Homo sapiens: one gene and its partners. The protein of the gene in region 2 binds, or shares a complex with, the protein of the main gene of each other region. Each region holds a gene or a part of one and is shown on either strand. Other genes may lie near its edges.

Region 1 (7,650 bases), on a different chromosome or scaffold from region 2:
TTCCTCTCTCTCTCTCACGCTCCAGGACAAGTCCAGTAGCAAAACCTGTTGGCTCTACCCTTAAAACATATGCAGGAAATAAAAGGCATCCAAATTGGAAAGGAAGAAGTAAACTTATTTCTATTCACAGTTGACGGGGTCCTATGCACAGTAAAGCCCAAAGAATACAAAACCCAACAGCTTTTCATGATTTTAAAAAAACACTCGGAAAATAAAATCTGTGTAGATTCCAATCACTCCTCCACCTTCCACTGCTCCCACCTTAGTTGAAGCCACCATCACTTCAGATCATGAGTATGGTCCCTAATCCACCTCCCTAAGCTTGCCCTATCCCCCTTCAATCTCCCATCAGCAGCCAGAGTGAGCTTAAGTCCAGATCAAGTCCCTCCTCTGCTCCACCCCTTCCAGTGCTTCCCAGATTACACAAAGTAGAAGCCAAAATGCTTACTCTGGCTACAAGGCAGGCCCACGCCCGCCCACCTCAGCTCTCTGCTTACATCTGCCCCTTCTCTCCCCCTCACTCACTCTGTTCCAACCCCACTGGCTTGCTTTCTGGGGCTAACCTTCATTGAATGCTTCTAGGTATCAGGCTCTGTGCTAAATACTTTACAGGCACCATCTCACTGAATTCTAAAGAAAATCCTAGGCCAGGCACAGTGGCTCACGCCTGTAATCCCAGCACTTTGGGAGGCCAAGTGGGGGGAAATCATCAGAGGTCAGCAGTTCGAGACCAGCCTGGCCAACATGGTGAAACCCTGTCTCTACTAAAAATCGAAAAAAATTAGCCAGGCGTGGTGGAGGGCGCCTGTAATCCCAGCTACTCGGGAGGCTGAAGAAGGAGAATTGTTTGAACCCGGGAGGCGAAGGTTGTAGTGAGCCGAGATCACGCCACTGCACTCCAGCCTCGGCAACAGAGTAAGACTCCATCTCGGAAAAAAAAAAAAAAAAAAAAAGAGAAAATCCTATGAAGTAGGCCATGCTATTATACTCACTTTGCAGAGGAGGTAACCAAGGCTTGGAGTGGTGACATAACATGGGGAAACCTCTGAAGCCTGCACTGATCTGCACCACCCCACCTACAGTCATGGTCAAAACCTCAGACTTACAGCATGACAGGGCAGGCAGGGGTGGGGTGGGGGATAAGGAGGGGGCAGGAAAAGCCTGGTTGTACAACCTGATGCTGCAAGAAAGGGAATACACACCTTTTGTTCTCACCTGGTTTTCAAAGCTTTCACACAGATCAACTTGTTTACTCTCTCCACAGAGCCAGCAACAGATGCAATGAGCTTCTCTTCTCCCATATACGTTCCATGGCCCCTGATGCAAGGCGAAGATACAAAGAAAGGATACGAGGGTAACTCGAAATGACTTCTCTCCCTTCAAGAACAACGTGTTCCTCAAAGCTAACAGGCTCCCCCTGCAAAGCGTGGCTTCTGTGCTGGCTGCTCCCTCTGCCTTCAGTGCTCCTTCTCCAGACAGCTACTTGGACATCACTCCTCTCACTCAGGTCTGCTCAGGTGTCACTTTCTGCAGCAGGCCTACCTTGACTGTGCCATTGAAAACACAGCCCACCCTGTTGCCACCATTCCCCCCACATACCATTGACCCTGCTCCACTTTTTTCCCTATTGCATTATTGCCTAACATTCTGAATAACTTATTCATTGCGCTTATTATCTATCTCTCCCTGTTAGAACTCCACCAGGACAGAGATTTTTCACTCTGCCATAATAACCCAACTGCACAAAATATATGTTGAAAGCATTAATGAAAGAATGAATCTTAAGATTTCCTAGGGGCCAGGCATGGTGGCTCATGCCTGTAATCCCAGCACTTTGGGAGGCCGAGGCGGGCAGATCACACTTGAGGTCAGGGGATCGAGACCAGCCTGGCCAACACAGTGAAACCCTGTCTCTACTAAAAAAAAAAAAAACCAAAAATTAGCTAGGCATGGTGGCGTGCACCTGTAATCCCAGCTACTCAGGAGGCTGAGGCAGGAGAATCACTTGAACCCAGGAGGCAGAGGTTGCAGTGAGCCGAGATCGCACGACTGATCTAAGACAGACTCCGTCTCAAAAAAGAAAAAAAAATTTCCTGGTATCCACTAACCTTAAACTAACAGGTTAAAGGGCAATGCTATGAATGCTGTGCCCCTTGTACATATACAAGTAAAAAAATAATAATAATAAAGGTTGAAACACTAGTGTTATCTATGATGATATAATGGCTGGTTTTACTTCTTTTCTTACATAATTGTCTCATTTAATCCTCATTACCGTATCATACTGTTATTATCACTATCTTACAGATGAGGAAACTGACCGTGGAGAGGCAATGCCGCTAATAAGATGTGATGGTAGCAGGACCGGAACCCCAACTGTCTGACTCAAGAGCCTTCCCTCTTAACCACAATACACTGCACTACACCCCTTAGATTCAAAATGTGTATAAATGGGTGCATGCAGCACAATGTAACTGTTTGCCCTAAGATCGAACAATTACGGATTCTAAACTGAAGAGGAGGCAGCCAAGAACGCCCACCGTCCCCTCAGAGAGCTGAAAACTGGAAAAGAGCCTGCACCTAACCCTCCCCAGCTTTCCAGGTCTCCCACAAGGAAGGATCAAAGATTTGGACTTCAGGCAGAAGACCCAAAAGTCACAGCCACCGGAGGTCAGGAGTGGAGGGTTTCAGGGAGCTGAGACAAATGCAGACGGGGACACACAAGATGCAGGGAGCAAGAAGCACGAGGCTCGGAAGCGAGGTGTGTAGGATGCTCAGACGAAGTGCCCTGGGTCCCGCGGGGAGTTACACACACAGGGATACGAGGCCTGGACCACGTGCAGAGAGCCCTGAAGCCGCTCTCTGAAGCCTCGACTCCCCCAAGTCCCCACGTACCGCATGAATCCTGTGTCCGTAGTGATTGTATCCCCCGGCACCACTAGATGTTTCTTAGTGTCGCGGCCCAGTCTCTCGCTAAGAGGCTTGCGAGCCACTGGAAGCCTCATCTCCATCGCCATCTTGGCGCCAATGAGTTGCGCAGGCGCAGCTCAGTCGGGAGCTGCGATATCCGACTCCACAACTCCAGGCCGCGTTCGGAGGGGCGGGGAAGGGCGGGGACTCAGAGCAGCTGCCAATGAGAACTCACGGCCTAGAGGCCATGTTTACAATTGGCAACAATAAGGCGAACCCGAAGGGAAGGGAGCCGAGCTGCCATGTCTACTATTGGCAAGGAAGCACCCGTGGAATAATAAAATCTCACGTTGTGTGGCGTGTGACTTTTTACCAAAACTGTCTTGTACTCATCATCCCATTTATTGTTTACCAGGGTTAGAGATAATTGAGAAACGGACCTCTGAGTTTCTGTCCAATTCTAAGCTGCTGAAATCCGATATTTTGTAAGAGAGAGCTCAGGAGGATGGAGAGATGGGATCTACAGAAAACACTATTTGAACAGAAAGAAGAGCCCCTTTCCACACGGTTCCCAGTAGCGCCAGGATTCTACATTGCGGCCGCCCCGTGGGTGCTGGCTCAACATCATCATCTATAACCCCAAACCGGGCTCCAGATACTTCTCACTTGGTTCTGTCCTTTCATAAGGACTCCTTTGAACAAGCTAATTTACTCCAATATTTCTTTTGGAAACAAGTTAAAAATCGTCTAAGAAAACAGGTCAAACCTTGCAAGCCAGGTATATTTGGTAGGGAAGGGAAGAGCACACACAATGCGAAGATCTTGGCTTGCATTTAGTTACACAGCGAGTTGAGCGCTCTCTGTGTGCCAGGCGCTGTTCTAAGGACTCAGCGGGGAACAGACGGATGTCTCTGTGGGTTTTTCTGCGGCTCCGTTTTAATAGGAGGGTACCCCTCGCCCCTTCTCCCCGTCCCCCACTACCCTCTCCCTCTCCTTGCCCTGCATTCACAAGAAACTAATTGGGGATGGTAACTCCCCATGCACAGGGACTCTAAAGACGATTAAATGAAATCATTGGCATCAGCTGTGGTCAGTAAAGCCGGTAAACCAAGTCCGCCTCCTGAAGAAAGATCCATCGAGCCAATTGTTTTATAAATCTCCAAAGCGACAGCATTTCTTCCACTTAAGCAAGTCTCACGACCACACTTAAGAAAGCCAGCCCTGCCAGGCAGTCGATGACATGAATGCTAGTGCCCCGAGGCCCTGGGTAAGCGGGCTGCCAGACCCTCGCCCTCTGCCGTGCCTGGAGGAAGGCACTAGAGCCCAGCCCCTCGGTCCAGTCCTGCCGCGGCCATAAGAGGGCGATGGTGTCCTCTGAGCTCGCGTAGCCCGGCAGCCGGGGAGCCAGGCCCAGCGAGCGGCCCTAGGCGGAGCGAGAGTGTAGGCCTGACACCATCCAAGTTCTTCCCGGGAGGGAGAGACGTCGCCTTTACCCCGCGCATTCTCACAGCGTTCACAAGGTTGGCATTGTGGATACCAGTTTATGGAGGAGGAAATCGAGGCCCCAAAAGGAATGGAATTCACATTAGCAGATGGCTGCAAAGCCGATGTGTGTTCCAACTGCACGCGATTTACCCCAGAGCCTGCACCCTTTACCAGAAATAGCCCGAGTGCTTCGGCTGGTCCTTTGCTGAGTGCTTTACAAATACTATGTTATGTATTCCTCACTTTCAGCCCATCTTCGAGATAGGCATTGCTATCCCTGATGATCACTTGGGGCCACCGAGCCCCCCAAACAGACCCGTAACTGGGACTAGAATCCAAAACGACAGGGACTCCCCCTCTCCCATCCCCAGTGCTCCTCTTTCTGCATCATCACACGCACCTTTTTTTATTTTTATTTTTTTCGAGACAGAGTCTTTGTCACCCAGGCTGGAGTACAATGACACGATTATGGCTTACTGCAGCCTCGTCCTCCTGGGCTCAGGTAATCCTACCACCTCAGCCTCTTGAATAGCTTGGACTACAGGCACATGCCACCAGGCTCGGCTAATTTTTTGTATTTGTCTTGTGAAGACAGGGTTTCACCGTGTTGCCCAACCTGATCTCGAACTCCTAAACTCAAGTGATCCGCCCACCTTGGCCTCCCAAAGTGCTGGGATTACAGGCATGAGCCACCAAGCCCGGCCACACTTACCCCTTTACGACCAGTAGACAAGTGGGTACCCGGAGACGAAGCAGCACATCCCAGGGGGCTTGTAAAAAGTATAGATTCCTTAGGCATTGAGGCTGTAAACCCCGAATATCTGAGACAGGTCTCAGTTAATTTAGAAAGTTTATTTCACCAAGATTGAGGATGTGCCTGTGGCACAAGCTCAGGAGGTCCTGACAACCTGTGCCCAAGGTGGTCGGAGCGCAGTTTGGTTTTATACATTTTGGGGAGACATGAGGCATCAATCAACATATGTGAGATGAATATTGGTTCGGTCTGGAAAGGCTGGACAACTCGAAGCTGGGAAGGGGCTTCCTGGTGATAGGTAGATAAGAAACAAATGGTTGAGGCCAGGCGCGGTGGCTCACGCCTGTAATCCCAGCACTTTGGGAGGCCGAGGTGGGCGGATCACGAGGTCAGGAGATCGAGACTACCCTGGCTAACACGGTGAAACCCCGTCTCTACTAAAAATACAAAAAAAAAAAAAAAAAAAAAATTAGCCGGGTATGGTGGCTGGTGCCTGTAGTCCCAGTTACTCGGGAGGCTGAGGCAGGAGAATGGCTTCAACCCGGGACGCGGAGTTTGCAGTGAGCCGAGATCGCACCGCTGTACTCCAGCCTGGGCGACAGAGTGAGACTCCGTCTCAAAAAAAAAAAAAAAAAAAAAGAAAGAAAAAAGAAACAAATGGTTGCATTTTTTGTATTTTTAGTTTCTGATTAGCGTCTCCAAAGGAGGCAATCAGGTATGCATTTATCTCAGTGAGCAGAGGGGTGACTTTGAATAGAACGGGAGGCAGGTTTGCCCTAAGCAGTTCCCAGCTTGACTTACTTTTCCCTTTAGCTTAGTGATTTTGGGGCCCCAAGATTTATTTGCCTTTCACAAGGCTCTGCAAAGGTAAGGTCCAGAAGTCTGTGCGTGTTTTAACTCCCTATGTAATTTCAATGGCGGAAAAGGTCTAAGATTCACTGATGCCACACATCTGTGCATCTCCGCAGCCACTGCCCCAGGCTGATCAACGGCATCTCTTACCAGGGAGATAACCTCCTAGCTTGTCTTCCTAATTCTACTTTTGTCCTTCCTATCATCCAATCTCCGCACAGCAGCCAGAGAGAGCTTTAAAAACAGATTAAATCACTTCTCTGCTTCCAGCACTTCTTGACTCCTGCCTGTCTCTGACCTCACGCTCGTCCTAACCCACTGCGTTACTCACTATGCTGCAGCCGGACTGTTAACGGTGGAGGGTGCCCAGCTTCTCGGCGTCTTGGACAAAACATACAGACAAAACAAGGAAAGAATAAAGCAACAAAAGCAGAGATTTATTGAAAACGAAAGTACACTCTACAGGGCAAGAACAGCTCAAGCAAAGAAACTCAACAGGCTCCTTACAGAAGTTTCTGGGGTTTAAATACCCTCTAAAGGTTTCCCATTGGTTATTTGGTGTACGCCCTGTGTAAATGAAGGAGTGGCCCGTGATCAGTCTGATTGGTTGTGGAAAGTGGCCAATCAGAGGCTGAAGTTAAAAGTTACACCCTACGCCAATGTCTGATTGGCTGTGGAAAGTTATCAATCAGAGGCTGAAGTGAAGTTACAAAGTTATACTCCCATGCAAATGAAGACTTGGCCACCTACCAGCCTGACTGGTAGTGGGAAGGGAGCAATCAGAGGTACTTTCAGTTTTTCATCTGCACACAGAAAAGCTGGGATTGCAAAGGGAGTAGCCTCTGGTCCTTTGGTTACTTGGACGTGGAAAGTTGGGGTTTTCCTTTTGATTTAGTTCTAGAAAGTCAGTGTGAATCAGCCTTATGTTCCCTGCCTCCAGACCCTATTCTCCTGCCTCAAGACTAGCTGGCTTCCCCTCGGTTCCACAGCACCAAGCTTCTCATCACTCCAGGGCCCTTCACTCTGGTCTCTTTCTGCATGAATTCTCTTCTCCCAGGCTTTTGTGTGGCTGGCTCCTTCTCCTCACTCATGGCTTGCTCAAACATCACCTCCTCAGAGAAGACTTCCCTGATCACCTTATCTGGAATAACTTTCCAGTCCTTTTTTTTAATCCCTTGATCCTGTTTTACTTCTTGTCACTGATTTTTCTTTTTCTTTTCTTTTCTTTCTTTTTTGAGAGAGAGACTTGGTCTTGTCACCCAGGCTGGAGTGCAATGGCGCGATCTCAGCTCACTGCAACCTCTGCCTCCTGGGTTAAAGAGATTCTCCTGCCTCAGCCTCCGGAGTAGCTGGGATTACAGGAACCCATCACCACGCCCAGCTAATTTTTGTATTTTTAGGAAATACGGGGTTTCACCATGTTGGCCAGGCTTGTTTCAATCTCCTGACCTGAAGTGATCTGCCCACCTTGGCCTCCCACAGTGCTGGGATTACAGGTGTGAGCCACCATGCCTGGGCTTCAATTTTCTTTCTTTTTTTTTTTTTTTTTGTTCATTGATTGCAGTCTCCCCCCACTAGAACATGCATTGCTGAAAACAGGGACTTTATCTATTCTGTTCATCATATATCAATGCTTAGATCCAGGCCTG
Region 2 (7,098 bases):
GACTTCAGGCAAGTTATTTAACCTCTTACCTTAAACTCCTCATCTTGTCAAATGGGAAGAAAATAGTGTCTACTCCTAGGGACTGTTAATAAGGGCCAAATGAGATAGACCTGTTAAATCCCAGGCATAAAACCTGACAAGGAGCAAGTTCTCAAATCTTACTGTTATACATCACTCCAGGTTTACGAAAGAAGAATCTCAACTGAGGTTAAATAACACAGGGTATACTGTAGTCAAAGAAGCACAGGCTTTGGAGTCAGATTTATGTCTAAGTTTTACTTATGAGTCTTATGTACCTGGACAGGTTACTGAAAGTCATCTGTAAAACAGGAGGTGAAGACAAGTAACAAATGATTGTTATAGGCATTAAAGTGGATAATTCTGTAAAGCACCTAAAAAGGTGTCTGGAACATAGCAAGTACTCAGTAAATGGTAGCCAGTATTCCCTCAAATTTTTCTTTTCAACAATTTCAATTTTCTACACATTTACACAGATTACATGTCATCACTGGCTAAAAGGATGTCACCAAAAATCTGTTAATGTCTCAAATGATATAACAATTTTTTTAAAATGGTGACTCAGATTTTAAAAGTTGTTTCATTTTGCTACATTTGACAATTGTTCACTTAGTCATTAAACTTGGGTCATATTATCTAACACTCATAGTGAAAGCTCTTGGGAAATTAAACATTAAAAATTGACACCCAACTACCAAATCAAGAGTAGAATTACAGGTGTATATTACAATCTAATAAATAAAGCTAACTTTGTAACTCAAATCTCAATAGGACATATTTAGACTTACTGCTTTAACTCCACAGATTACTGTAGTATTTCCCAACTTCACTAAAGCAGAACCATCTGCGGTACTAATTGAACCTGAAAAGATAAGCAAAATGAAAGGTTCATAAAAGGAAAACAGCTACAAAATTATCCACATAATAATTAAAATTAAGTGTTTTAGTTTGCTGTGTACGATTATCTTGCTACCCCTCTCAGTTGCTTATGAATATTTCAAGTTAGAATAATTGATTTTTACATAACTATTTTAAATTAGTGTTTAAATAATTATTCACCTGTCCTTGAATTTGTGTTAATCATTTTTCATTTAGTTACAGGGCTTTTGTACGGATAAAAATCTCTTGACAAAAAAAATCATCAAATCCTTTAGACAAAGAATTTGGGTGAAAAACTGTTTGGCTGGTTCATAGACTAAAACTTGGGAATATCATACAGTTGAAAGTGGAAAATACATCCTTACCGATGTTGACAGTTGTGGTTCTGAATTCACCAAGTTCTCTTCCATCAGGACGGCAGTTCTCTTTCTAAATAAATATGTTTATATAAAAATAGATTATACCTATTACATATTTTACACATCTATCACAAGTTTTACACACACATTAAATGTTACTTCAAATGGATTAATTTAAATTACTTGAAATTCATCTTTAAAAGCAGCTCGTTATCAAAACGCATAACATGTACATAACCTTTACTCACCAGAAATCTCCTGTAATACTCCAGAGGTTCCACGGTTCTGAAACACGTGTTAAAAATATATCTGAGATAAACTGATGAATCTTAACATAAATCCAGAAATTGGCAAAGATCTTAAGTGTGGTGATGCAGCATAAATCTCCACAACTTTTTAACTAAAAGTAATTCTAGAAAGTAAAAATCCTTGTAGTAGCAATCACATTCAATTGCTGTCCTTAACTCTGCCATAAACGATTAGAAGATTGGCGTCTAAAAGCCCTTTGAGTGAGCTCTTTAAAAGCTCAATCTGTGTCAAAAGAATCATGTCGTTCTTGCTCTGAAACAAGGATTCAGAGTGATCTAGTGATCATGAAAAAAGATTATTTTAATAATCTAGTGATCATGAATAGTTAACCTCTTACTAGATAACTCAGGAAACAAAAAGGTACATCTTTATTTTCACTGTAAGTGAAATTTAGCATATTCTTCAATTATGACTGTAAGCAATAAGCCATAGTAACATTAGCAGTACCTGCAACTTTAACAACCACGGAGACCACAGATGTTTTCGTTTGCACCCTTTAGCTGTGTAAGGTATGTTCAGGCTCACCGTTACTTTGAAATCCCAGGAGTTACTACTAGTCTCGCCACTAGATCTTGTTTACGAAGGTTAATTTTAAACCAAGTATATATACTACTATATCGTGTCTTCGGAGTTTATACTCATAGATAACTATTTCAACATAATGGATTTCCTTTGGAATCCTATTTATTTTATCCATTTTTTAAAAACTTTAAGAAAGTCCACTGGCTTCACACACACAAAAACCTTCCAAACGAGGCATGATCCTTTTAGAAATAAATTACGGGAGAGGGAGAAGCAGGCGGTATGTGGTTCTGATGCAACAATCTTGATTGATTGATTCTGACAGAGTCTCACTCTGTCGCCCAGGCTGGAGTGCAGTGGCGCGATCTCGGCTCACTACAACCTCTGCCTCCCGGGTTCAAGCGATTCTCCTGCCTCAGCCTCCTGAGTAGCTGGGACTACAGGCGCCCGCCACCACGCCCGGCTAATTTTTATATTTTTATTAGAGACAGTGTTTCACCATGTACACCAGGCTGGTCTCGAACTCCTGACGTCAGGTGATCCGCCCGCCTCGTCCTCCAAAGTGCTGGGATTACAGGCGTGAACCGCCGCGCCCGGCCACAATCTTTAAAAGATTACAACTATGTCTCCTGGGACTGCACGTTCACTACACACCACGCTCACGAGCGCTCGCAGCGGGTATGGAACTCTACAGAGTCCTTTCATCTCCCGTCTCACTGAGGAAGAAGCCCTTTCTTTTCACTGTGACAACCTCCAGGTCCTCCCGCCCATCGTCTGCCTCGACGAGGAAGGAAATGGCACCCCAACGGGGTCGGCCTCCAGGTGAGAGAATCCCAGCTAAGAGTTAAAGGAAGCTGCCGTCCGCCAGGGTACAGAACTCTACCCGCCACCCGCCAACACTCACTTGAACCCAGCCGCCATCTTCCCGCCCGCGCGTCTGCGCCTGCGCCGCTCCTCTCCTGCGCGCCTGTTCCGCCGCCGCACTTTCGACACGGATGCCGGGGCCGCTCACGCCACGGGAAATGCCAAGGTGGGGACGCGACGAAAGGTCCCTGGCCCGCCCTCGCATCGACTTTCCCCTGCCCAGACGCCTTTCTAGGTTTCCTTGCCTTGGACGTATTTTGACGAATCTGCTGTTAAAGAAGGAGCGGGTCTCCCTCTTTATAAAAGAGCTGGTGCTGTGACTCAGAATAACACCAACAGTTCGGAGATAACAGGGTTTCTAGCGCAGAATCAAGCAGTGCGTGTGGAGCGTTATTCCAATGTTTCTGCGTCTTTTTTCTGCCTGTGACTTAGGCTCAGCCCTGGCCTTGCCTCTTCACTGGTCAAGGGCTCCGTGCTCCAACACATGAGAAACCTGAACTTTTTTTTTTTTTTTTTTTGAGACAGAGTCTCGCTCTGTCGTCCAGGCTGGAGTGCAGTGGCGCGATCTCGGCTCACTGCAAGCTCCGCCTCCCGGGTTCACGCCATTCTCCTGCCTCAGCCTCCCGAGTAGCTGGAACTACAGACGCCCGCCACCGCGCCCCGCTAATTTTTTGTATTTTTAGTACAGACGGGGTTTCACCGTGTTAGCCAGGATGGTCTCGATCTCCTGACCTTGTGATCCGCCCGCCTCGTCCTCCCAAAGTGCTGGGATTACAGGCGTGAGCCACGGCGCTCGGCCGAGAAACCTGAACTTTCTGTGCGCTCATTGTCCGCACCACGTTCTGCTCTGCAGGTCCCGGAGCTGAGGGCTCCTAAGCATCACCTTGTGTTGTAGACTGTGTCGTGCTCAAGGCTGCCATCTCCCTCCTAGGTGGGGTTACCAGATAAAATACAGGATACCACGTTAAATTTGAATGTCTGATAAACACAGCGTGGTTTTTTTGTTTTTTGTTTTTGTTTTTTTGTGGGTTTTTTTTTTTTTAAAGCATGAGTATGCCCCAAATAGAGCATGCAATTAGTTGTTGCCAGAACCTGGAGGGAGCTGGGAAGGCTTTACAGATAGATAGTGGTGATGGTTGCACAGTATGTATGTAATTAATGCCACTCACTATTGTAAACTTAAAATGATTAAAATGGCAACTTTTTATTTTACCACAGTTTATAAAAACTAATGTAATAAACCAGAAACCTGTAACTGGATGAGTCGTATGGTATGTGGCTATCTTAATAAGGCTGTTAAAAACATGATTAGTTTTTTAATCTGAAATTCAAATTAAGTAGACGTCTTGCATACTTGATAAACCTGGCGCCCCGCTGTGGAACCTAGCGCTCCTCTCCACCGACTGGGCGCCGAGGGCACGAGAGCGGCGTTTTCTCCGCCTCGCCACGCGGGGGCGCTGCGGCCAGCGGGCGCGACCTCTCTGGCGGCGGGGCCGGGTCGCGCGGGCGCGCTTCCGCCTGTGTGGAGGTGCGGGATTGGGCGGGCTGCCACGGCATGGAGAATGGCTCCGCTTCTGTTGCAGCTGGCGGTGCTCGGCGCGGCGCTGGCGGCCGCAGCCCTCGTACTGGTGAGAACAGGGATGGGAACCCGCGCAGGCCGGGGCTTACCGCTCTCCTGGAGACTGCGGCTCCTCAGGCGTCCCCTCCTCCGCGCTACCAGTTCTCGGAGAAGTCCCTTTTCCCCTAGATTCCCCCAAATTCCTGACCTCGGAGTTTCCTGGAGTTTCACTCTCCTTTTCTTCGGTTCTTTAATTTTCCCTTGGAATCTTATCTCTTTGTGTGCTCAGAGACTTGTAAGTTTTTTCACACTGGAGCGCACCCACCCGGCCTGGCATCATCGCCGCTTCCATCGCCCCTGGCGCCCGCGCCCCCTACCCACCTCCTCTGTCAACCTCGACCTCTCCCAGACTCTCCGGGACCTGCAGCCGCTGCAGTTCTGCTCCACCCAGGGAGGTCTCGAGCCCCCAGAAGGGGTGTGCTCCCTAGCCTGCTCCCTTGGCTGATGTGGTTAAGCAAATAGGGGTGACGGAGCCTTGACGGCAGCCATCTGTTACAAATGGGAATAAATGCGTGGATCGATGAGACCCACTAGGGACGCAGGGTGAGCGAGAGAGACAGGCCTCAGGCGCCTTGTCCGGGGTCGCATTGTGTCCCAGAATTAAGCACCCTAAATATACTGCCCCTAAACAAGGCAGGACGATAGAATGCAAACTCGATTGTCTTTGCCCTTGCTCTCGAAACACAAAAACATTGTAAACACTTGCTGATTGTTAAGTGGTAGAAAATTGGCGAACTCTCTCCCGCACACCTTGGAATGAGCCTGCCCTCTAGTTAGTAAGTGGAGAGGATTTCAGCTTCCTTGACATTCAGATTAGCCACCTAGACAGCACTGCCAGGAAGGCCACTCTGCCATCTTTCCAGAGGTTGTATAAATTTACAGTTTAGATAAAATGTAATGCATCCTTACTTCTTTGTTGATAGTATCTGGGTGAGAGAGGAGTCCTCTCTTGCCCTAACTAGTAGAGATTTCAGGGTTTAGGGCTTTTTTGTTTTTTCAAGTTTTTGAGCAAACCAGGATTGATTGATTGATTGATTGATTTTTGGCGGGGTGCGGGCGGGGAGTGGATTCACACATTCTTAGATTGAAGCTGCCTTACTTTGGGTCTTTTGCACAGATTTTATGGGATTGTACTGACGGTATTTGTTCCCACTAGCTTGAAGTGATAAGAGCTACCATTTATTGATTGTAGTACTTACTATATGTTGTGTTGCACTTGGTTTAATAGGAGTTATTAAATCTTTAACACTGTGACATATATGTTATCATTAGCATTATTTTACTGGTGAGGAAACATGTTGGAGAAATGAGCTCGTGTACTCAAATGTTGCACAACTAGTGAAACTTAGGTTTTTTAAATGCCAGAGCAAGAAATCATTAAAAAAATAATTTTTCAAAACCTCATCCTGTCTTCATATGTATCCACTCTCCATTACTCACAGTCTCACCTCCTTTCTGAATTATTTTAAAACAACTCGAAGACATTTTATCTTTAAATCCTCAGCATTTATTTCTAACAGATAAGGTCCTTCTTTTTAAAATACCACAATAAAGTGGTCACAGATTTAAATTTATTCTGTGATTTCAAATGCCCCCTCAGTTCACTTGCCCTCACTTGTCTCATATATGTCTCAGTATATATGTCTGTTTGTTCCAATCAGGATCCAAACAAGTGCCACACATTGTACTCTGTTGATGTCTTGAGTCTCTTAATCAGTTGACAGTTTCTCCTCCCCCTTTTTTTCTTTTCCTTGTCTTTTTTTTTTTTTTTTTTTTTTGAGACGGAGTCTGGCTCTTGTCACCCAGGCTGGAGTGCAGTGGTGTGATCTTGGCTCACTGCAACCTCTGCCCTCAAGCAATTCTCCTGCCTCAGCCTCCTGAGTAGCTGGGATTACAGGCGCCTACCACCACTCCCGGTTAATTTTTGTACTTTTAATAGAGATGGGGTTTCGCCATGTTGGCCAGGCTGGTCTCGAACTCCTGAACTCAGGTGATCCACCCTCCTCGGCCTCCCAAACTTCTGGGATTACAGACATGAGCCACCGCGCCCGGCCTTTTTCCTTGTCTTTAATATGATCATTTGTCCTGTAGAACTTCTCACAATTTGGATTTCTTTGATTGCATCCCCTTAATGCCTTTTAACATCTTCTATCTCAAATTTTCTATAAACTGGTAGTTAGGATGGAGAGACCTGATCACATACATACTCGATGTGTTTTTTAATCAAGAAAAAATTGTGAGTGATGCTTCTTCCTTTCTCTTGTGTCTCATCAGGAGTCATGTAATGGCCATTTGTCTCTGGTGTTAAGATGGATCTGTGGTTTCAAATGTTGCCAGCCAGACCCACCAGTTTATAAAGTTTGTCATCAGCCTAATGGTTTTAGTAGTCATTGAGGATCATTACCTAAATGCTTTATTTCATTGCGGGTTGCAAAGTGAAATATTCTCATTGTATCCTTCATTTATTACCTAGAGTTTTGTAATGAAAGAAATCTCATCCTCAGCTATTCATTTACCCTAAAATACCTT
Region 3 (7,007 bases), on a different chromosome or scaffold from region 2:
ACTCCTGACCTGAAGCAATCCGCCTGCCTCAGCCTCCCAAAGCTCTGGGATTACAGGCGTGAGCCACCATGCCTGGCTGTTGTACTTTCAGAGCCCAAGGTAAGCAGCAGGAAAAGCCCAGGGGGCTCCAAACCATAGTCCAGAGGTTGTGGGACATGGCCCCCACATCCCTAGGGTGGGTACCCAGAGCCAGCTGAGTTCTTCCTCAGCCCTTTGCTCAGGGCCCCCGATGTGCTGGAATAAGGGTAACAGATTCCTCAGTCTAATGGCCTGGCTCATCTTGCCAGGCCCTGCCTCCTGCTCAGCTGCCTTGAGTCCTTACTGGGACATGCTGCTTTTTCCACCCAGGGCCTCCCCTACAGAAACCCCCTAATCCACTGTTCTCTTCAGGGTTTGAATCAGGCTACACAGAGATAGGCCGTTCATGTGTGGGCGAGGGTCCCTAATCATCCCCAGGAGCCAGCACCAGACCAGGCTCTGCCAGCCTTCACATGGCTCTGAAGTGCTGTTAGGTGATAACGTACAGTGAGGGGTGTGTGGGCAGAGGAGGGTTTTATTCTGGACATGGGTGGCTGGGTGGTCAGTCCCCCAGCAAGATAGAGGCCTCACGCACATGCTGCCGGACCACTCGATCTAAGAGGGTGTGCACATCTCGGGCAGCCTGGGCAGCAGCCTCCAACACCCGCTCCAGGTGGTCCTCGTGCAGCCGGGCATCCATCTCAAGCAGCGCAATCTGTCCTGAGGCTGGCAGCAGGGCCAGGGCCAGCTGGGGGCCACCAGCTGCTTCCTCCACATGGCTGAGGTCCGCCAGGGCTGTGCCGTCCACGAAGCCAGCTGAGCACGCACACACAAAGTCTCTCATGGGTATCCCGGCATCCAGCACTGCCAGCGTGGCTGCATTCACACAAGCTGCATAGGTCCCACCATCTGCCTGTAGCACCTGCAGGGAACCCAGGGTGTCAGTCTATCAGACTCCCTCCCCAACCCCATCACACCCTTCCCTCCCTGGATTGACGGCTGCAGCTGGCTCACCTGCACATAGATATCAATCTGGGAGCGTGGGTGCAGCTGTGTGAGGATGGCTGCTTCGAAAGTCTGGCGGAGCTGCAGGCCCATCTCACAGGACTTACGGTCCCCATGTGGCCGTCGCTTGCGCTCACCTGTGCTGAAGGTCGCTGAACTATATTGACAGTTCACTAGGGCCCTGTCCGGCAGGGCTCGAGCCCGGGAGCCCCGGATCTGGAAGAGGACAGACACATGAGCCAGGCCCACTCCTTCCAGCTCACACTCCACTGTCCTCTGTGGGTCTGCCTCTCCCTCCACTTTCAATGCCTCAGCAAGGGGCAACTGCGTTACCTCCAAAACAAAGCCCCCTGTTTTGCGCTCTCTGTCTTGCATGTGTCGCCCTCTGGCACCTTTTAATTGGCTTCCTTGTGTCCATCCTTGCCCCATTCCCTGCCAACCCAAGTTTACAAACATCAACGCTGCTTCTGTCTCACCTACACACTCAAATCCTAACTACCTTACAAAGGTTTCACATTACATATGAAATAAGATCCCAAATCATTTCCCTACTCTACAAAACCCTAAGTCCTCACCTCCCCGGGAACCCTCAACCTGATTTGGAGTTATCCCCTCTTTCCCCACCAGCAGTCTTTCTGCTCTGCATAAGTGCCTTGCTTGTTTTCACCACCGTGGTCTTCGCCCTTCTGGTTCCCTCCGCCTGGAAAGCAGAGCTCCCACACTCATGCGCTAAGCAAACACTCTTTCAATACCTTCGCTGGCCAGGCAGTTACAGCGCTGGAAGCACAGTAATGAAACCAGATAGTTTTATGTAAAGTTCCTTTCTTTAGGAAGCTTATGTTCCAGCGAGGAAACAAAGGGGAAAATGCTTAAGCAAAATAGGCATTTGAGATTGTAGGTGCACAAAACAAAGGGTTTATTGTAGGGCGAGAAGTACCGCGTGGATAATAAGGTCGTCTGGGAAGGAGTGACGTCGGAGTAGAGCTGAAAGGAGAGGGAGCGAGTGGGGGAGTGCCTAGCACGTTGAAGAGCCGCAAAGAGGAAGGAGGGCGCAGGGACAGAGGCCGATGAGAAAGGCAGGACCACCGCGCAGCACACTAAGGACTTGCGTTTACTCCGAGTGAGATGCGGTGCTGAGCATCGGCTGTGTAGACTGAGGCGCGCCGGCCGTTGCCCCTCAAGTCCCCGAGCCAGCGCTCAGCCCGGCTGCCCCGCAGCTCCCACGGCCACACGATTCCCCATCCCGCGCGCCCACTCGCCTCGTGCGGGCCGTAGACCACAGCCAGTGCCTTGGTGTTGCCCTGCTCAATGTAGGCCGAGCCGTCAGCCTGCGCGAACACGCCCATCCGCGCCTGGATCTTGCGCAGCTCCCCGGCGCGCCGCCCGTCCACCCGGTAGCCCTGGTCCGACAAGAGCTCCAGCCCCGCCATGCTGCCCGGCCGCCAGGTCCGCTCTCTGCCTACTTCTCTGAGCCGCGGGAGAACTACAGCTCCCGGCGGCTCCGACCGCCCGGAATCTACGGTTTCCGGAGGTCCGCCATCACTTCCGGTTCCGGGGAACTACAGCTCTCCGCGGCCCTGACCTCCGTGGATCTGCGGTTTCCGGCGTTCCGCTGTCACTTCCTGTCCTGGTGAACTGGAGTTCACCGCGGCCCCGACCTCCCCGGATCTACGGTTTCCGGCGGTCCGGCTCTACTTCTGTCTCCGGGGAACTGCGGCGGCGCTATCGGGGAAGCAGCGGCTGGGCCCGCAGCCGTTCCCGGAGCTGTGCCACGGGTGCCAGGAGGTGGGCGCCCGCCGAAGGAGGAATTGCCCAGTCACGCCCTCGTGACCAGTGGTGCCTGCATTCAGCCCTTCCCCGCGCCCCAAGTGTGAAAGTGGAAGGATGAACCCAGTGGGGTGCGACACTGACAGGAGAAGGCATTGAGCGGTCCTAGGAAAGTGACCAGGCTGGTGTCCCAGGATGGTCCACACCTGGCACCTCTCCAGTCCTCTCATGCCCTCCCTTTACACCGAGCTTCCACACTGCAGTCAGGTGGGCCTCCCTTTTCCCTTTGAGGATGCAGATTTCCTCATCCTTTCCAGAGAGGGGTTGTATGTCTGTTTATCTCTTGCCACTTAACCTCAGCGGCTTCAAATAATAAAAATCATTCTATTATTATGTGCTGCAATCTGGGGTTATCTAGGCTCAGCTAGATAGTTTGCACTTAGGATCTCTCCTACAGTTGCTGCCAGATGGTAGCTGGGGCTGCAGCCATCCTAAAGCTTTCTCCCTCACATCTTTGGTGGCTGATGCTGGTGGCGGGCCAGGACCTCATCTGTGCCTGTCAGGCAGCACACCTACATGTGGCTTCTCCATGCAACCAGGGCTTCCTTGCAGTATGGCAACTGGGTTCCAAGGGTAGCCTTCCAGGACAACAAGGTGGACAACATGTGCATGGTATTTTTAGGACCTAACCTCAGAAGTCACATAGTGTCCCTCCTGCCACACTCTGTGGGTCAAGGCAGTCAGACAGATCTGCCCAGGCTTAAGGGATGAGGACAGGGACCCCACCCTTCAGTGGGAGGAGTGTCAATATTAGACTGTAGGAAGAGCAGGCGGGCTAGGGAAATGTGGTCTGCTGCAGGGGCCCAAGTTCAGTTGTCACAGCATCCCCTCCAAGGTGGTTAAGCTCTCCTGAAAGACTGAGGCATGAGAGTGAGTGAGCAAGCCACAACCCTGCTGCTGCAGCTGGTCTGAGGCCATGATGGGTCACCACCCTCTGCCACTTGCCACCCCGGATTCCCCACCCTCTGCTCTACAGCCACTCTGCTTATTGTGGAGCCCTTTTCCCCTTTCAGTCTGAGCTCTTACTGTCCCTGTTCTTACTGAGTCATCGTTTTTTTCGTTTGTTTCTTTGTTTTGTTTTGTTTTTTGAGATGGAGTCTTACTCTGCACCCAGGCTAGAGTGCCGTGGCACAATGTCAGCGCACTGCACCCTCCACCTCCAGGGTTCAAGTGATTCTTCTATCTCAGCCTCCCAAGTAGCTGGGAAGGTGGGATTACAGGCACCTGCCACTATGCCTGGCTAAGGTTTTTTTTTTTTTTTTGGAGATGGAGTCTCACTGTCACCCAGGCTGGAGTGCAGTGGCACAATCTCAGCTCACTGCAACCTCCACCTCCTGGGTTCAAACGATTCTCCTACCTCAGCCTCCCAGGTAGCTGGGATTACAGGCATGCACCACCATGCCCTGCTAACTTTTTTTTTGTAGTTTTAGTAGAGATGGGGTTTCACCATGTTGACCAGGCTGATCTTGAACTCCTGACCTCAGGTGATCCACCTGCCTCGGCCTCCCGCCACCACGCATGGCCATTACTGGGTTGTCCACTGACAGTCCTTGCCGCATGCGGGAAGACTAGACGCCCAGGGAGCTCTGTGGACTGCCCACCCCAGTTGTGTAGCATTGACCGTAGCAACTCAGGACAATGAGGACGATGTTGGTCTTCAGCCTAAGGTGTCCAAAGTGGGCCAGTGATAGCCGCTACTTCAAGATCAGTGGAACCTTTGCTGTGTTCCCTGGTGGAAGTATTCATCTTCAGGAACCAGGCCTCCAACCTGGCAGCATTACAGGTTTAGGATTATGGGGCCACTCCTACCTCACACCTTTGGTTCTCTGACCCTCGTACTCCAGCTTTAGGGTACACACATGGGTCGATTCAAATTTTGGAGGCCTAAAGCTTATACAAATTCAGGGGCCGTGAGAGGTATCCCCAAGACCCCTCCAGAGTAACCGATTTGCTAGAAGGACTCACTATAGACTTGTCTTCACGCCTAAGATTATTACACAGAGAGGATATAAGTCTGAATCAGCAAAGAGAAAAGGTGCATGGGATGAATTCCACAGGAAATCAGGCGTGAGCTGGCCACGTCCTCTCCTGGTGGACTCCACGGGAAGAAGCTGGAGCCGTGTGTGTGAAATGCTGTCTGCCAGGGAAGCTTCTTAGACACTCAGCGCCCTGGGGTTTTATGGAGGGCTGGTCACATACACAGTCTGTGCCAAGCATGTGCCCAAATTCCAGACCCCTAGAAGCAACACAGGTGTTCAGCATGAGCCATATTTGTACAAACAGTCTAGGCACAGTGAGACACGCTTACCAGAGAGTGGGGGAACCATGAAAAACCCAAGTTCCCAGACACCCACTCTTCAAACTTGCCTGTGAAGAAGAGCTTCTCAGGCCTGCTGTTAACTCTTCTATGCAGTCTTCTTTTGAAACATAAGACAAAATTGTATATCCAAAACTAAGTGAATAGTGAGAAAAGAAGTCCCAACACATAACAAACATTTTAAAAGTTGTCAAATACTACAAACATCACAAAATGCAGAAAACCTGCCTGACATATTTGACTCCAACAGGTTTCCCCTACATTTCTTTGATGCGTTCTCTGATGCTCTCTTAAGATGACAACACCTTTTTATAACGTAACCTTCTATATGTAGAAAGAATATGGCAGACGCGGTGCTCGCGCTTGTAATCCCAGCACTTTTGGGAGGCAGAGGCAGGCGGATCACTTGAGCCTAGGAGTTCAAGATCAGCTTGGACAACATGGCAAAACCCCATCTCTACAAAAAATGCAAAAAATCAGCTGGACATGGGCCGGGCGCGGTGGCTCACGCCTGTAATCCCAGCACTTTGGGAGGCCGAGGCGGGCAGATCACGAGGTCAGGAGATCGAGACCATCCTGGCCAACACGGTGAAACCCTGACTCTACTAAAAATATCAAAAATTAGCCGGGCGTGGTGGCGGGCACCTGTAGTCCCAGCTACTCGGGAGGCTGAGGCAGGAGAATGGCGTGAACCCAGGAGGCGGAGGTTGCAGTGAGCCGAAATCGCACCACTGCACTCCAGCCTGGGCGACAGAGCGAGACTCTGTCTCAAAAAAAAAAAAAAATTAACTGGACATGGTGGTGCATACCTGTGGTCCCAGCTACTTGGGAGGTGGAGGTGGGAGGCTCACTTGAGCCCAGGAGGTCAAGGCTGCAGTAAGCTGTGGTCACACCACTGCACTCCAGCCTGGGCAACAGAATGAGACCCTGTCAAAACAAAAAACAAATAAACAAAAACCAAGAAAATGATTTAGTTTCTCCTCTCACATGTTTGATCAAAATTTAATTTTATTACTAATAATTAAGTTGCTTTCAGGTAAAAGCTCCTTTGGGTAATATGTACATTTTTAGAATTGTCATTAAATTGGAGGAAACCGCTTATCAAATTTCTTCCACATATGAGCCATAACAGTTCAGGGCTTGGCTGGGTGAGGTAGCTCGTGCCTGTAATCCAACACTTTGGGAAGCTGAGGCAGGAGGATCGCTTGAGGCCAGGTGTCCGAGACCAGCCTGGGCAACATAGTGACACACTATCTCTACAAAAAAAAATTTAAAAATTAACTGGGTATGGTGGCACACGCCTGTAGTTCCAGCTACTTGAGAGACTGAGACGGGAGGGTGGCCTGAGCCGAGGGAGTTGGAGGATGCTGTGAGCTATGATCGTGCCACGGTACTCCTGCCCATACCACAGAGCCAGGCTGTCTCAAAAAAACAAACCAAAAAACCCAGAACCACCCCCCGCCCCAAAAAAATGAATTTGAGTTTGGGTTTTCTTGTTTGTGACTAATCTTAGATCCTCTTTGAGTTGGCACTTGGCCAATTTCATCAGCTTGTTGTGTCATGACATGCAGCCGAGGGAGGTGGGTGTTTCCGGAAGCCATTTCTACACCAGAATGACTAGCGATAGCATAACTGTATCGGGAAGTGACTGTTCCCGCTAAGCCCAAGCAAAACGTAGCTTCAACTCAACCTCCCGGGAGCTGGACCCCACAACACCCCCTCCAGCTCTATGCAGCAGGGGAGGGGGTAACTGATGGGGGTAACTGATGGCAGGTTGCAGGGGGAAGAGACAGTTTTAGCTGGTTGTGTTTAAAATATTTCACTTTTGCAAATTTTACGA
Region 4 (2,840 bases), on a different chromosome or scaffold from region 2:
ATTTTAAGTGATTAAATTATGGTATTGTTGTGTCTGGAATATCTGATATTAGGGTTTTTTTTTTTTTTTTTTACAGTTTTTGATATGCTTTATTTTGGGTATGTAGTTTACAAAATATAAAGGAAATATAAGGAGTGTTCTCTTTTTTTTTTAAATAAAAAGTGTATTTTTAACTGGGCATGGTGGCTCACTCCTGTAACCCCAGCACTGTGGGAGGCTGAGGCTGGTGAATCGCCTGAGTCCAGGAGTTTGAGACCAGCCTGGGCAACAAGGTGAAACCCTGTTTCTATCAAAAAAAAAAAAAAAAAAAAAAAAGGAAAAAAAATAAGTCAGGCATGGTGGTATGCACCTGTAGTCCCAGCTACTTGAAGGCTGAGGCAGGAGGATCGCTTGTGCCTGGGAGGTTGAAGCTACAGTGAGCTATGGTCAAGCTACTGCACTCCATTATAGGCAACCCTATCTCAAAAAAGCAAAGCAAAACAAAACATTTTTCCCCTTGATTATAGAGGTTTGAGAAAAATTTGAGGGAAGATTCAGAAAATTACCTGTAACTGAACAGAATGCCACCAGCTTGGGCTTATTCTGCATGCATAATTATGAACATTTTCCCAGCTCTTGTGAAAATTCTCACATTCATAGAAAGATAGATGCACCAGTAAAATAAATACCTGTAAATACGATAATAATTTCATAATAATATGCTTCACCTAGATTTACCAGTTACTAATATTTTGCCAGTTTTATTTTCTCACACACTTTTGTTGAGCATCTGAAAACCATACACATGATGACAGTTCAACCCATAATGTTTTAGTTTGCATCTCCCAAGAATAAGGTTTTTCTTCTGTATAACAAGAATATTGTAATCATACCTAAGAAAATGAATTTTATTACATATGTGTTCTATATTCAAATTTCTGTAATTACCCCTAAGATGTCTTTTAAATGATTTTTAGCATTGATAGTCTGTGCCTGTGTAGATTATAACATTGGCTATTGCAAAATAATGGTTTTCTTTTTCTCTTTTTTTTTGAGACGAAATCTTGCTCTATTGTCCAAGCTGGAGGGCAGTGGCACAATCTCGGCTCACTGCAACCTCCGCCTCCCAGGTTCAAGCAGTTCTCATGCTTCACCCTCCTGAGTAGCTGGGATTACAGGCAGGTGCCACTGTGCTCTGCTAATTTTTATATTTTTAGTAGAGACGGAGTTTCATCGAGCTGGCCAGACTGGTCTTGAACTCCTGACCTCAAGTGATCCACCTGCCTCGTCCTCCCAAAGTGCTGGGGTTACAGGTGTGAGCCACTGCACCCAGCCTAAAATGATGGTTTTCTGATTCTAGCATTTCTTTTATAAGATTGCTATGTAAAGCACAGCTTTTCTTTTTTTAGGGAAAAATGTCTTTTAACAGCTGCAAAATAAATATTCTTTCAATGGAATGACAATTATTATTTTTGCCATATATTTATTTTAAAAATTTATGTATAATGGTAACCTGAGCCTGCATGTTATTCATGTGTGGTGCCATACTGATCTTTAATTTTAATGTGAAGCAAGTACTAATATAGTAAAGCATAAATTATATAAAATTTGCTTTATATTTTGGATTGCAAATTAATTGCTGTACTTTATAGAAAAGTTTCCCAAATCCGTTTTACTTTTTTGTATTTGAAATTTAATCACAGGTGGAATCTTAAAGAGAGCATTTAGGGATATTGTAAACAGATGTTATTAAGGACTAATGTTAACAAACATTGAAGAAGAGAAAACAGTATTTGTTTTTAGCTTAACATCTTAGTGGAGTGAAATATTTTCAGTATATTTATTTTATTTATTTATTAATTATTTTTTTTTTTGAGATGGAGTCTGGCTGTATTGTCCAGGCTGGAGTGCAGCGGTGCAATCTCAGCTCACTGCAACCTCTGCCTCCTGGGTTCAAGCGATTCTTGTGTCTCAGCCTCCCGAGTAGTTGGGATTTACAAGTCAATTTTTTTTTTAACTAAAACTACAGAATCTATTTTTCTTGGTCTCATACTCAGTTTTTTATGTAGTCACTTAGTAAATAACCTAATTTGCTTGTTTTCTCCACACTAATTTTAGGGTGAATTCCTCATTTCGCTTTTCAGATCATGGGGTGAGGGGGATGGTTGTGTGTGTGAGGAACTGAGGAATCAGATGGAAAACAATGCCTCTGCTCCTTTGAGTATAATCAGTGATATTTGAGGTTCCAGGGTTAAATGCTGCATTTTTATTTCTGACGTTCGTACCTTAAAATATTTGAAGAAAATAAACTATTTCATTGTTGTCAGAAATGTAGTTCTTTTATTTTCCTGCCCCTCTCCCCTTTCTAAGTTTCTAGAATGTTGAGTAGGTAGAACATAGATGCTCCTTTTAGGATCTTTTGCTGTGGAATGGTCCACAGGTGAATGGCAGTAATATCTTAAAATGATTGGCCCCCTCTCTCTTTGTTTCCATCAAGGATACAGTTGATATATTAGTTGGATGGCATATAGATCATACTCAGAAACCTTCGCTCACGCAGCAGGTATCTGGTAAGTCTTGCAGCCTATACCAGTTATTTAAATACTGTCGGGGAGGAGCAGTGGTCCCCCAGTGACCATCTATCAATAACATTTCTTTAATAATGCAAGAAAACTAATTCAGAGAAATGTTATATTGTAAATGAACATTACTTGTTAGCTAAATATATATTTTCAGAAGAAATTACTAGTAGGTGGGTAGAATAAGTACAGACAGGACTTACCCAAGTTATTTGTAGTTTGTACTGGTAGGAAAAAGTATATGGTAAGAATATATTGCAGTGGCAATACCCTGAAGTGGAC

What was found.
Region 1: EXOSC8 (region 2) and EXOSC2 share a complex: the UniProt entries of both Homo sapiens proteins name them as parts of the RNA exosome core complex.
Region 3: EXOSC8 (region 2) and EXOSC4 share a complex: the UniProt entries of both Homo sapiens proteins name them as parts of the RNA exosome core complex.
Region 4: EXOSC8 (region 2) and EXOSC6 share a complex: the UniProt entries of both Homo sapiens proteins name them as parts of the RNA exosome core complex.

The regions. Positions count from the first base shown.
Region 1 is NC_000009.12:130,689,159-130,696,808, reverse strand, and holds the start of EXOSC2 (exosome complex component RRP4), read right to left. Parts: upstream 3,030-7,650; 5' UTR 3,018-3,029; coding exon 2,896-3,017; intron 1,318-2,895; coding exon 1,216-1,317; exon of another isoform or gene 1,203-1,215; intron 1-1,202. UniProt on the Homo sapiens protein: Non-catalytic component of the RNA exosome complex which has 3'->5' exoribonuclease activity and participates in a multitude of cellular RNA processing and degradation events.
Region 2 is NC_000013.11:36,996,716-37,003,813, reverse strand, and holds the start of EXOSC8 (exosome complex component RRP43), read right to left. Parts: upstream 3,029-7,098; 5' UTR 3,009-3,028; coding exon 2,992-3,008; intron 1,542-2,991; coding exon 1,505-1,541; intron 1,327-1,504; coding exon 1,263-1,326; intron 881-1,262; coding exon 807-880; intron 1-806. Other genes in the region: ALG5 (dolichyl-phosphate beta-glucosyltransferase), read left to right, coding at 4,514-4,579. UniProt on the Homo sapiens protein: Non-catalytic component of the RNA exosome complex which has 3'->5' exoribonuclease activity and participates in a multitude of cellular RNA processing and degradation events.
Region 3 is NC_000008.11:144,074,175-144,081,181, reverse strand, and holds EXOSC4 (exosome complex component RRP41), read right to left. Parts: upstream 2,511-7,007; 5' UTR 2,454-2,510; coding exon 2,283-2,453; exon of another isoform or gene 1,240-2,282; coding exon 1,033-1,239; exon of another isoform or gene 941-1,032; coding exon 581-940; 3' UTR 534-580; downstream 1-533. UniProt on the Homo sapiens protein: Non-catalytic component of the RNA exosome complex which has 3'->5' exoribonuclease activity and participates in a multitude of cellular RNA processing and degradation events.
Region 4 is NC_000016.10:70,246,247-70,249,086, reverse strand, and holds the end of EXOSC6 (exosome complex component MTR3), read left to right. Parts: 3' UTR 1-2,309; downstream 2,310-2,840. UniProt on the Homo sapiens protein: Non-catalytic component of the RNA exosome complex which has 3'->5' exoribonuclease activity and participates in a multitude of cellular RNA processing and degradation events.